Regions from separate parts of the Homo sapiens genome. Here region 1 is linked to region 2. Evidence: fine-mapped expression QTL. Tissue or cell type: T cells. Region 2 holds a variant in brackets; the other region holds the start of a gene. All regions are shown on one strand. Distances are from middle to middle.

The links. PIP is the estimated chance that this variant, and not a neighbour inherited with it, causes the effect.
Region 1: REELD1 starts here. The variant in region 2 is fine-mapped to the expression of REELD1 in T cells (TOPMed, PIP above 0.99).

Annotation. Positions count from the first base shown.
Region 1 is chr4:146,212,446-146,217,674 of GRCh38, reverse strand. It overlaps REELD1 (reeler domain containing 1), which reads right to left and starts at 3,137. Exons shown (of 8, transcript NM_001354631.1): 1 at 2,981-3,137; 2 at 2,477-2,599; 3 at 515-733. The coding sequence starts at 722.
Region 2 is chr4:146,187,488-146,192,716 of GRCh38, reverse strand. It overlaps LSM6 (LSM6 homolog, U6 small nuclear RNA and mRNA degradation associated), which reads right to left. Exons shown (of 4, transcript NM_007080.3): 4 at 1,182-3,095. The coding sequence ends at 3,061. Among named protein-coding and RNA genes, the nearest start is that of LSM6, 14 kb to the right of the region's middle. The variant G/C (reference allele first, on the strand shown) is at 2,628.

The DNA.
Region 1 (5,229 bases), 25 kb before region 2:
TATCTATAATAATATTTGTGTCTTCTTATACAGATCACAATTAATACAGAGATTAGTTATCATGTGGTTTTTATGACACAAATATTTTATGCTTATTTTTAACCTGATAATTGCTTCTTAAGATTAAGCCAGGCTGGGCATGGTAGCTTGTGCCTGTAATCCCAGCACTTTTGGAGGCTGAATCAGGAGGTTCACTTGAGCCCAGGAGCTCGAGACCAGACTGGGCAACATACAAAGACCCTGTCTCTAAAAAAAATACAAAAAATTAGCAGGGCACAGTGGCATGTGCCTGTAGTCCCAGCTTCTTGGGAGCCTGAGGTGGGAGGATCACTTAAGCCCAGGAGTTTCAGACCAGCCAGGGCAACACAGTGAGACTCCATCTCTACAAAAAACAAAAAAAAGGGATTAAGCCAAATTTAGTCCAGGAAGCTTCTGACTGGGACAAACACAAACTGGAAGGTCCATGGGGGCTCTGGGGCTCCTCGGAGTCTCTCTAAGCCTCTCTGGTACATACCTGGAATCTTGTCACCTGGTGCATAGGAAGTCCTGTGGGTGTGGATGGTGATGTGGTGGCTGTCCTGGTGCTGAGGCTGGGCTTGGATGTGCTTGGGCTGCATGTCATCACAGGCCACCGTGCTGGCACCATGGGAAAAGGCAGATGAGCAGGAAGCCAGGCAGAGGGTGGTACAAGCCCAGCCCACGAGGGCAGCCTGCATCCTCATCCTGCCCTCTCCTGTATCATGACAAACAGCAGCTTCAGTCCAGACGTTATTTAGGAAAACGACATAAAGTCTTCTCGGGATGTGACTAACCTGAACCCCACACTGCCTCTGTACCTGAGATGCTTTTAGTGCAGCCTCCCAGGATTGCTAATGTTCAAGGCCAAGATCAAAAGGAAATGCCAGGCTATAGGAAGTGTTTCATTTCCAAACACCTTTTTAAAAACTTCTGTTCTTGTAATTTTCTCATAAGACCAGACTGCTTTTTTTGTTGTTGTTCAAAAGAGAGGCTTTAATTATTGAGTCAAAGAAATAAAACCAGAAAATGTTTGTATCCTAGCGTGAGCTCCTTGCAAGCTGACTGGTACCCAAAGGCGGTGTGGCCTCTGATACATTATCTGAAGTAGACACTCAATACACCACCATGGTCAGGCAGCATGGCATGGGATGGCTTGGCTGAGCATCTTATCTCTGTTGCAATTGAAAATTACCAAGTTAAGTGCTACAAAACATCTACCAACTATCAATTATTTAGAAGTGACTGTTAAGCTGGCAATGCTTTGATATCTCTTTGCCCTTTCTTTGGCTGTTTTTAGCTATTTCACTACTTTTAGTAAAGAAGATGAGCAGAGAAAGAAATACTCAATTTATTCTATAACTTCTTAAACATACTGATAACAATTTTGGCTCAGGAATAGAATACAATGATTGAATAAAATAGCATTTATAGAGTAAATTTTATTTTTGTTTACTACCTCTAATTCCCATCAAGAGGAAGAATTAAAATTTGGCAATGTAAAAGAAGATGACAAAAATAAAATGAGAGATAGCAAACAAGGCAGATGAAAATCTGCCTACATAAATATTTAGGATTATCACAGGCATTTTTTAACAGTTCTGTTTTAGGCCAGGTGCGGTGGCTCACGCCTGTAATCCTAGCACTTTGGGAGGCCGAGGCAGGTGGATTGCGTGAGCACAGGAGTTCAAGACCAGCCTGGGCAATACGGTGAAACCCTGTCTTTACTAAAATACAAAAAATTAGCTGGGTGTGGTGGCATGTGCCTATAGTCCCAGCTACTCGGGAGGCTGAGGCAGGAGAATTGCTTGAACCTGGGAGACCAAGGTTGCAGTGAGCTGAGATCATGCCATTGCACTCCAGCCTGGGCAAAAGAGCGAGACTCTATCTCAAAAAAAAAAAAAAAAGTTCTGTTTTTTTTTTTATAGTCCTGCACACAGGCATTTTAGAAGTTTGGCTAATTTTTTGACCTAAGGAACAATGCAAGGCAAAAAAAAAAAAAAAAAAATGCCCTCCCCTGTAGTCAGCTGGTTTTAAAAGGTGAAAATAAAATCCTGAAAATGTAGTAAAACTAGCTATCAGAACAATAGACTAAGGAAATAATCCATAAACCAAATAATCAAGTGTCCTCCACTCCCATTGTCTCTTCACACAACACCACCTTTTACATTCACAAGCTAAAAGAAGACAGGAATATGATCTATACCTCAAATTTCTTAGACATAAGAGTCCTTCAGACAATGCCTTTCTTTTCTAAGTTTGTTTTCTATGAAGCACCAAAGTCACACATCTCCATACTACAAGGAACCATGGCTACAGCTTCTCAGACACATTAGGAGATAATGAAGATGAACTGTGTAAAAGCACATTCTCAGTCAAGGGGGCTCAGGGTTCTTCTCATTTTCTTTCATAAGGGCCACATACAAAATGCCCCTTGAATGCTGGGCATGGTGGTGCGCACCTATAGTTCCAGTTGCTCAGGAGGCTGAGGCAGGAGGATCACTTGAATCCAGGAGGTCGAGGCTGCAGTGAGTTATGATCACATCACTACACTCCAGCCTGGGTACAGAGCAAGACCCTGTCTCTTAAAAGAAAAGAAAGAAATGAAATGAAAATGCTCCTCAAGTCCTTGCTGATGGCAAGTGGTCTTTCCAAAGGCAGATCAGACACAGTTGCCTACAAGGGAAGGGGAGTGAGTGCCTGGACTCACAGACTACGGCCACAGCCCCACCTCCCACCCTCCTGCCTTAGGTTTCACTGTGTCTTCTTTCCCACTAGCATCTTGTCTACCTGAACCCTGAAAACTATCCACTTGGAGCTGAGCATGGTGGCTCACACCCGTAATCCCAGCACTTTGGGAGGCCGAGGCAGGAAGATCACTTGAAGCCAGAAGTTCAAAACCAGCCTGCGCATCACAGGGAGACCTTGTCTCTACAAAAATAAATAAATAAAAACATCCACTTACCTAGGAACACAGTTTTCTTCAGGCTTGATAGAATGGCTTCCTCCCGCAGAGTTGCAAACACATCCCTTAAACATAAGTATTTTCTTCTCCTTTCAGTTTTTCCTCTAATGGGGAGAATAACAGCTGCTACCACTAATCCTCAGCATCTCCAGGAACTGTTCCTCAGTGTCCAAATCCAACCTAAATCGTATTAGCACACACATACACACACACACACACACACACACACACACACGGTTTACAGTCACATCATTGTTCAAGCCTGCGTGAAGAACTAGAAAGAACCGGAACTGGTTTTGCACAGGACTGGCACTGACATCCTTGGCAGAAGCTGGATGCCTCCATCTTGATCTCCCTGCAAAGGGGAGAATGTTTGAATGAAATGCATCTCAGCATTCTTGGCTTCTTGAGTCAGTGTGGACTGAAGTTACTCTTGGTGAAATAGAATTGATACGTTAGCCCAAGAGCAACGTTTGGTACAAAAAAATAACACGTGGCATAGGCACCTCCCGTATCAATTGCACTAAAGCTGGAGTTCACATTTTCATTCATCTAAGAATCTGCTGAGACACCTGATAATACCAGAGAGCCTATAGATCAGTGTTCCTCAATGTGTGGTCCCTAGAGTGCAACACCAGCATCACCTAGAAGCTTGCAACATTAACAATGAAGAAAAAGAGAGAGGAATGGATTTGGGAGATCAGGAGATCAGGTGGAGGTAGGATTTGGTGGCTGTTTGAATGCAAGGCGTCCAAGAGAGAATCCTAGGATTGATAGTCCTGGGTGATGTGGAGTAGGGGGCTGCAGAGAGAGCAATGTTCTGACTGTTAGGCCTTGTCTCCACTCAGAAAAAACTAAAGCTATGAGTGACTGAATAGGCAAGGCACTGGCTTAGGGACCAGGTTGCTAAGCCTTTTGTTGCAAGTGTAAATGAGACTATCTATCCTATAAACACCAAGGGAAATTGGGCTTCCTTGGCCTAGGATACCAGTATTCCCCACACACAGAACAAAAGCAAACAAATTCAATTTGGTTTCTCTAAGCTTCTATCCCACTAGGATTGGAGGCAATCTCAATCTCCCACTGAGTCATGAGAAATTCTGGGAGGTCTAGAAAATTAGGATACATTCCTTCCATGGCTGCTGTTATGATAGTTTTCAGAGCTCATGTGGTCACTTGAAGACTGTTAGTTGGAAGGCTTCTATGCCAAAAAGGGGCTCAGGTCTTCAGCAAGGCTGTGGCCTGGGTTCTTCCCACCCCCTCCACTGGGTCCTGACACAGATCTCTGCCCCTAGCAGGAGAGTGGCTAACCTCTTCTCCACTCCACTCTGCTCCTATCCCAGTCTTAGAGACAAAAGTGTCCCTCCTCTCCTTTTTTTTTTTACTCTCACCCCATTACCCTGGGCCACCTGGCATAATCCACCTACCACAGGTAGAGTGGTAATCTCCAACACCTCAGCTTTGCCCCTGAAACACAAACTCCCTGGATATACGGATTCTCAAAAGGCCCAACTACCAATTAGAATGAGGAGAGGAGTGCAAAGGTAGAGAGAGCGCACCTGCATGGCTCAATAAATAATCCTGCCATTTGCTCATGTAATATTTCTTGTTGAAAATCAGGAGGACACCATATCTTAGACATGGCCTTATCCTGCCTGCCACACCCACAGCCTCTGCTGAGCCGGCAGCGCATCTTATGCCACTCTCCCGACAAAGCTGATTGTACCAGGGGGGCATTCATCACAGGCGAGGGCCCTGCTGACTCAGGGCTGAGACAGAAACTCTCCCTGGGAATCTGACCAAGAACACATACAAGGCTACTCTATACGAGTGCTGGCCAATAGAAATAGAATGCAAGCCACATATGTAATTTAAAATTTTCTAGGCCGGACGCAGGGGCTCACGCCTGTAATCCCAGCACTTTGGGAGGCCAAGACAGGCAGATCACCTGAGGTCAGGAGTCCAAGACCAGCCTGGCCAACATGTTGAAACCCCATCTCTACCAAAAAATACAAAAATTAGCCAGGGATGGTGGCACGTGCCTGTAATTCCAGCTACTCTGGAGGCTAAGGCAGGAAAATTGCTTGAACCTGGGAGGTGGAGGTTGCAGTGAGCTGAGATCTTGCCATTGCACTCCAGCCTGGGCGACAGAGTGAGACCCTGTCTCAAAAACAAACAAACAAAAAAATTGGACTCTCCTTATTTTTAAAAAACGTGAAAAGGAACAAAAGACATTTGTTTTAATAATA
Region 2 (5,229 bases):
ACAGAGACACAGCTGTACTGCTGTGTACTGGTGGTACAACAGACAGCAGCGACTGGAATTAAGATAGTTGCTGGATATTCAGACCCCAGAGGTCAGGACTAACCCTGCCACTCTTAGGTGGCATCTACCTCCACAATGGTCAGGGGCAAGCTTAGCGAAGACAGGCAGAGACACTCCACTGAGCACACGGCCTCCTGAAACCAGGTCGGTGGGGAGAAAAACTGAAGGTTGTCTTCCTTTCACCAACAATTTCTTTTTGTGGAGAAAAAAAAATTATAGTTAATGCAGTTGGGCTGTGGGGAACAGCAAGGCCACAGCATGGGCTGGGATTTACCTCTGAATCTAAGAGCTAGCCAGTACTCTGGAGGATCATCTGCTCGGAGGACAAAGGTCAGTGCAATCATAGGCGTGTCTGCCCCCAGTAAGGGAACATTCTGGATCTTTGGCCTGGAATGCTGTACTGAGGTCACCCAAGAGTCAGTGATTATCAAAGACAATTTTACCCCCTAGAGGTTGCTTCTATTGTTACAGATTATTATAGCCTCCGGGGCGGTAAGCCTTACACAGCAAGTCCAATGCTGCTGCACTTTTAGACCTTAAGGAAATCCCGTAAGCATTTGTTACTATTATTAATTAAGCATAATTAAGCGCTCCTAGCATGCATTCCATATTGCCTTGAGCAGAAAGCTTCAGATGTAAACCATCTTTCAATAACATTCCCTTCCTGAATGCTGAGATGAGAACATGAAAATCATACCACATGTCTGCCATCTGTATTTGTACTTGTCAACAGCTCTGTTTTGGGATAAACAGTTTTGAAATAAGAATCAATTCGACTTGTTGGAAGATTAGCCAAGGAATAGCTCAAAGACCAAAACAGAAAATGAAGTCAGATAGTCTGAAAATCGAGCACAATTTTGTTTCTCGCTAAACATTCTGTTTTGTCACAGCCCAAGAGAAAGAGTGTGGCAGACAGGGTTTGGGGGCACACAGACAGGGAAAATGTATGTTCTCAAGTAAAAAATTCTTCAACCTGGAACAAATGTCTTCGCTACAATGCAACTAGAAATCATTCACTGACCTCTAGGAGACTACAGTTAAGAACAAAGCAATTTAAGCATTTACACTTTGTTTCATGGTTCTACTATGTGAAGGTATACACAGGGGACAACTTGAGCGGGTTCAAGTGCATAATACAGTCCTTTATTACCATAAAAATGGCAGCACTTCCCAAAGTTGATCTTGATTAAAAGTAGTTCCATGGTTGAAAACAGTACTCCACTGTAGAGCTATTAAACTAGAGAGATGGCAAGGGGAAAATAAAGACTTATATATCAAAGGCGAGGTCAGGGAAGAAGTTAGAAAAAACAGGACGCTACAGATTAGTGGGAGACTACAATGGAATTGCTTTTAGAGGTGGCTGATATAAGTGAATGAAGGGACACAATAACCTGCAGCCCCACATATTCTACAAAACAAATGAGAACATGTATGCTCCACTTGGAGAGCCATCCATTTTCTCCTTAAAAGAACTCATTTATAAAAGAGCAAATTGGTGATTTGTACTTACATACTGGACCTTTTCCAAGCCCCTGTCAAGAAGTGATAAATTATTGAAGCATAGCATAAAGTGTTTTATTTTCAGTGTGCACACGGTAAAACCCTGTGAAATGCTTCTGTTCACCTTTCCCAAGTTATTAATTAAAAAATAATTGTTTCCAATTACTCTCTGATCTTTAAAATAAACCAAGACAAAACACTACATACACCTCTCCAGAATCAGCACTGCCCCTTCCCTCTCTCCTTCTCGATCCTGCCCCCCATCCTTCAACCAAGCAGTTGTTTCGAATCACACCATCGGCTCCTGAAATAGGAATGCTATTTAGATTGGGAAGGGAGGGAAGAGGAAGTCCAATACAACATTCACACAATTGTCTGGTATTCATTCAACCACAGTGCCCAGATATATTTGTTGTTCCTAGAGACAGCGTAAAACTGTTTGGAGAATAAAGCAGGGTTGTGGAAAGCTCATTAATAAATTGTGAAAATCCTCTCAGCAGGAGTCACATAACCAGAGGAGCTGCCTTGTGCCAAGCAACATAAAGCCTGGTGCTCTGCTCCTGGACAATGTCAAAGGCAAATACAGCTGATTTTTGAGAAAGGCCTCCCTACAGCCACTTGCTAGACCAGAGTTAGGAAAAATTCTTTCCCAATCTCAGCTCGGCAATTAGAACCTGAATTATGTTTACAAACTCTAGGCTTTGCTTTAATCTGACTGTGAGAGATGTACAGGAATGGCCCCTCCCCTACTGTGTTCATAAACTGAGAGAATAACGTTGATGCCAATGCTCCTGAAAGGGAGCAGGGAAACCTAAAAAGTCTAATTGCATAAGGAGATGCAGGGGGACCACTGACAGGAGGGCTTTCTCCTCACTGAAATCTTGTTCATCTTTAGGATTTCTCCAGCACCTCAGTTCGAATTCCCACTCCTTATGTGCAAGTGGCACTCTTGGCTTTCCAATTCTGTTTTTTATTTAGGTGACTCAATCAGTGGCTGAACTTCTGATCCTGTGGCCCCTTTTTGTAGCTTCAGACTGAAACTGGATGCCTTTGTAGAACATATTCAC[G/C]CAAGGATTCTGTATGAACAGAAAAGGATGCAATAAAGGAGGATTCCTCCAAAATGTTTTAATTATATGTCCATACAATATATAAAATATATGCATCATTTTAGCTGGATAAGAAAAGCAAGTCAAATGAAATGACACTTCTCGAAACTTAAGTTAAATAATCTTGTAGGAAGAGGTATATTTTGTCTTTTTTTAATTATTTTAGCATTCTGTACACTGACAACGAGGTAAAAGAAAATGACTGAAACTTACAAGTGAAAGAACATTTCACAATTAAATCCACAATTGTATACATTTATCTTACTCACATGTCAGTGAAAAATCACCAACTATTATAAAAAGAGGACAAATTGTATCACAAAAGAAGCAAAAATTAGAAAAAATTCATAAAAAAATATATCCAACTATGAAAAGCGTTGCTCTCTTGGTGTCTTCACATCCGTCTCTTCTGTGTACTGATGTACAACACTGAAAAGAAAAAAATACATAAATTGAAATTTAAAAAACCCTGCTTGTAAGTATACATAGTAGCAAGTTTAAAAGCCAACAGATTTTGGTCTGATACATCTGACATTTAAAAGGAATTCTCGTATCATTCAATTAACTCTAGAAGTACTGTAAGACTAGTTTTATGAATCTACACCCAGGTTTGATGTCTTACAAAACTGTCCTAATTTCATCCATGTGTCTCACTGACTCTTTAAAGTGTGACCAGGAAGATAAAATAAAATATATGTGAAAGTCCCTGGTATCTAAGAATGCTTTATAGTTAGAAGTATAAGAATTATGCTTTTCAGGGCTGAACACGGTGGCTCACGCCTGCAATCTTAGCACTTTGGGAGGCTGAAGCGGGTGGATCACTTGAGCTCAGAAGTTTGAGACCAGCCTGGGCAACATGGTGAAACCCCGTTTCTACCAAAAATACAAAAAATTAACCAGGCATGGTGGTATATGCACTTGTAGTCCCAGCGACTTAGAACGCTGAGGTGGGAGGACTGCTTGAGCTTGGGAGGCAGAGGCTGCAGTGAGCTGAGATTGCACAACTACACTCCAGCCTGGGCCACAGAGCGAGACTTCATCTCAGGAAAAAAAAAAAAAAAAAAAGATGCTTTTCAGAAAGTAAATCAGTAAATCTAACCAGGCTAGATCTCAAATTAAGAATAAACAACATATTTTCATCTGTCTCCCCAATACAAACTCTAAACTTGCTGTTTACCTTCTTAAATGCAACAGGATAAACAAGAGCTAAGGAGTTTATTTTTTATTTTTATTTTTTAATGATACCAAAGTCCTTATTCTGAGTTCCCGTTAAAAGTCTCATACTTTGGTGTTACCTAATGTTCTGCTTAGTGGTCTTCTCATGACTACCAACATGAACTCGTAGGATGTGTGGTCCGTAGGAATGAAACAAAATGAAATGCTTGGGTCACTTTGGCCAAACTAGAGGTGGTTCTCCCTTCCACCTTCCATGCCTACTCGGCTTCTGAGAGGTCTGCTCAAAGCGAACAGTAAGGTGTCTTCATCAAAGAACATAGCACAGATGAATCAAATAAGTCAAGATCCTCTTTAAGAGCCAATGATGTGAACTTGGGAGTCTAAAGATGAGTGTCACTGATTACATCATGGGAAATGTGACATGAAGGGAAGCATCAGAATGCCAGTACAGCCGCCCCCCAACCCTGCCCCCCAAGTCCTAGGGGTAGTGTGCACGTTAAAGGATCTACCCTATCAACACGCACAGAACCCAACCTGCCAGTGACTGCTGCCATTAGCTGTCTTGAGGTGAGACAAGATCATAACATTTCTTAGGAAAAAGAGGAGGTCAAATAAGGATATGAAAAATAGGATAAATAATTCTATAAATAGAAAGGACTAGAAAGCCAGGAAATAATGTATGTAAAAATATGATATGAAGAAATAAGGTCCTGTAAGCATAGGGGACAGACTCTTATTATAAAAGTCAGGAAGTTTAGTTTATAGCAAAGAGATCCAACTATTTAGGGGGTTGAAGACATCCAGAATTAAAGAAATCAACAAAAAATCTGAACTCAAGAATCCCAGAGTTTCTGGGAGATGGAACCAAAAAGTGGGGTAATTCTCATAATTCTGATATCTTTCCCTCCCCACCAAAAATACAAATATGACTTTATTATAATTTTCATTTTTAAACTAGGTACTTAAAAATAACTATAAAAATCATAGCAATTTATTAGTTGTTAAAAACTGAGTAACTTTTTCTATTTTGCCATTTTTGCCAAACTGAAGGATGCAAATCTGCATAGAAAGCATCTGAATGTTTAATAGAGAAGGGACAAATAGGACGAACTGCCAAATTATGCAAATCAAAGACAGCAGGGAAACGGTGCCCATTCTTACATCTCCAACTTCCAGGCTACAAGAAGCAGGAATATGTGTTGGGGAGATATACTACACTATATTCGAGAAAGCAGGGTTCCAGGTAAGGAGAACAATGTCCCTCAGTTCCTCATCACTAAAGGAAGGGAAGGAGAGAATTTTGGTTTCAAAATTCCATGAAGCATCTACAAAATAACTGGTCAAACTGAAGATCTGACATATAAGCATTTTAAAATAATCAAGCCTA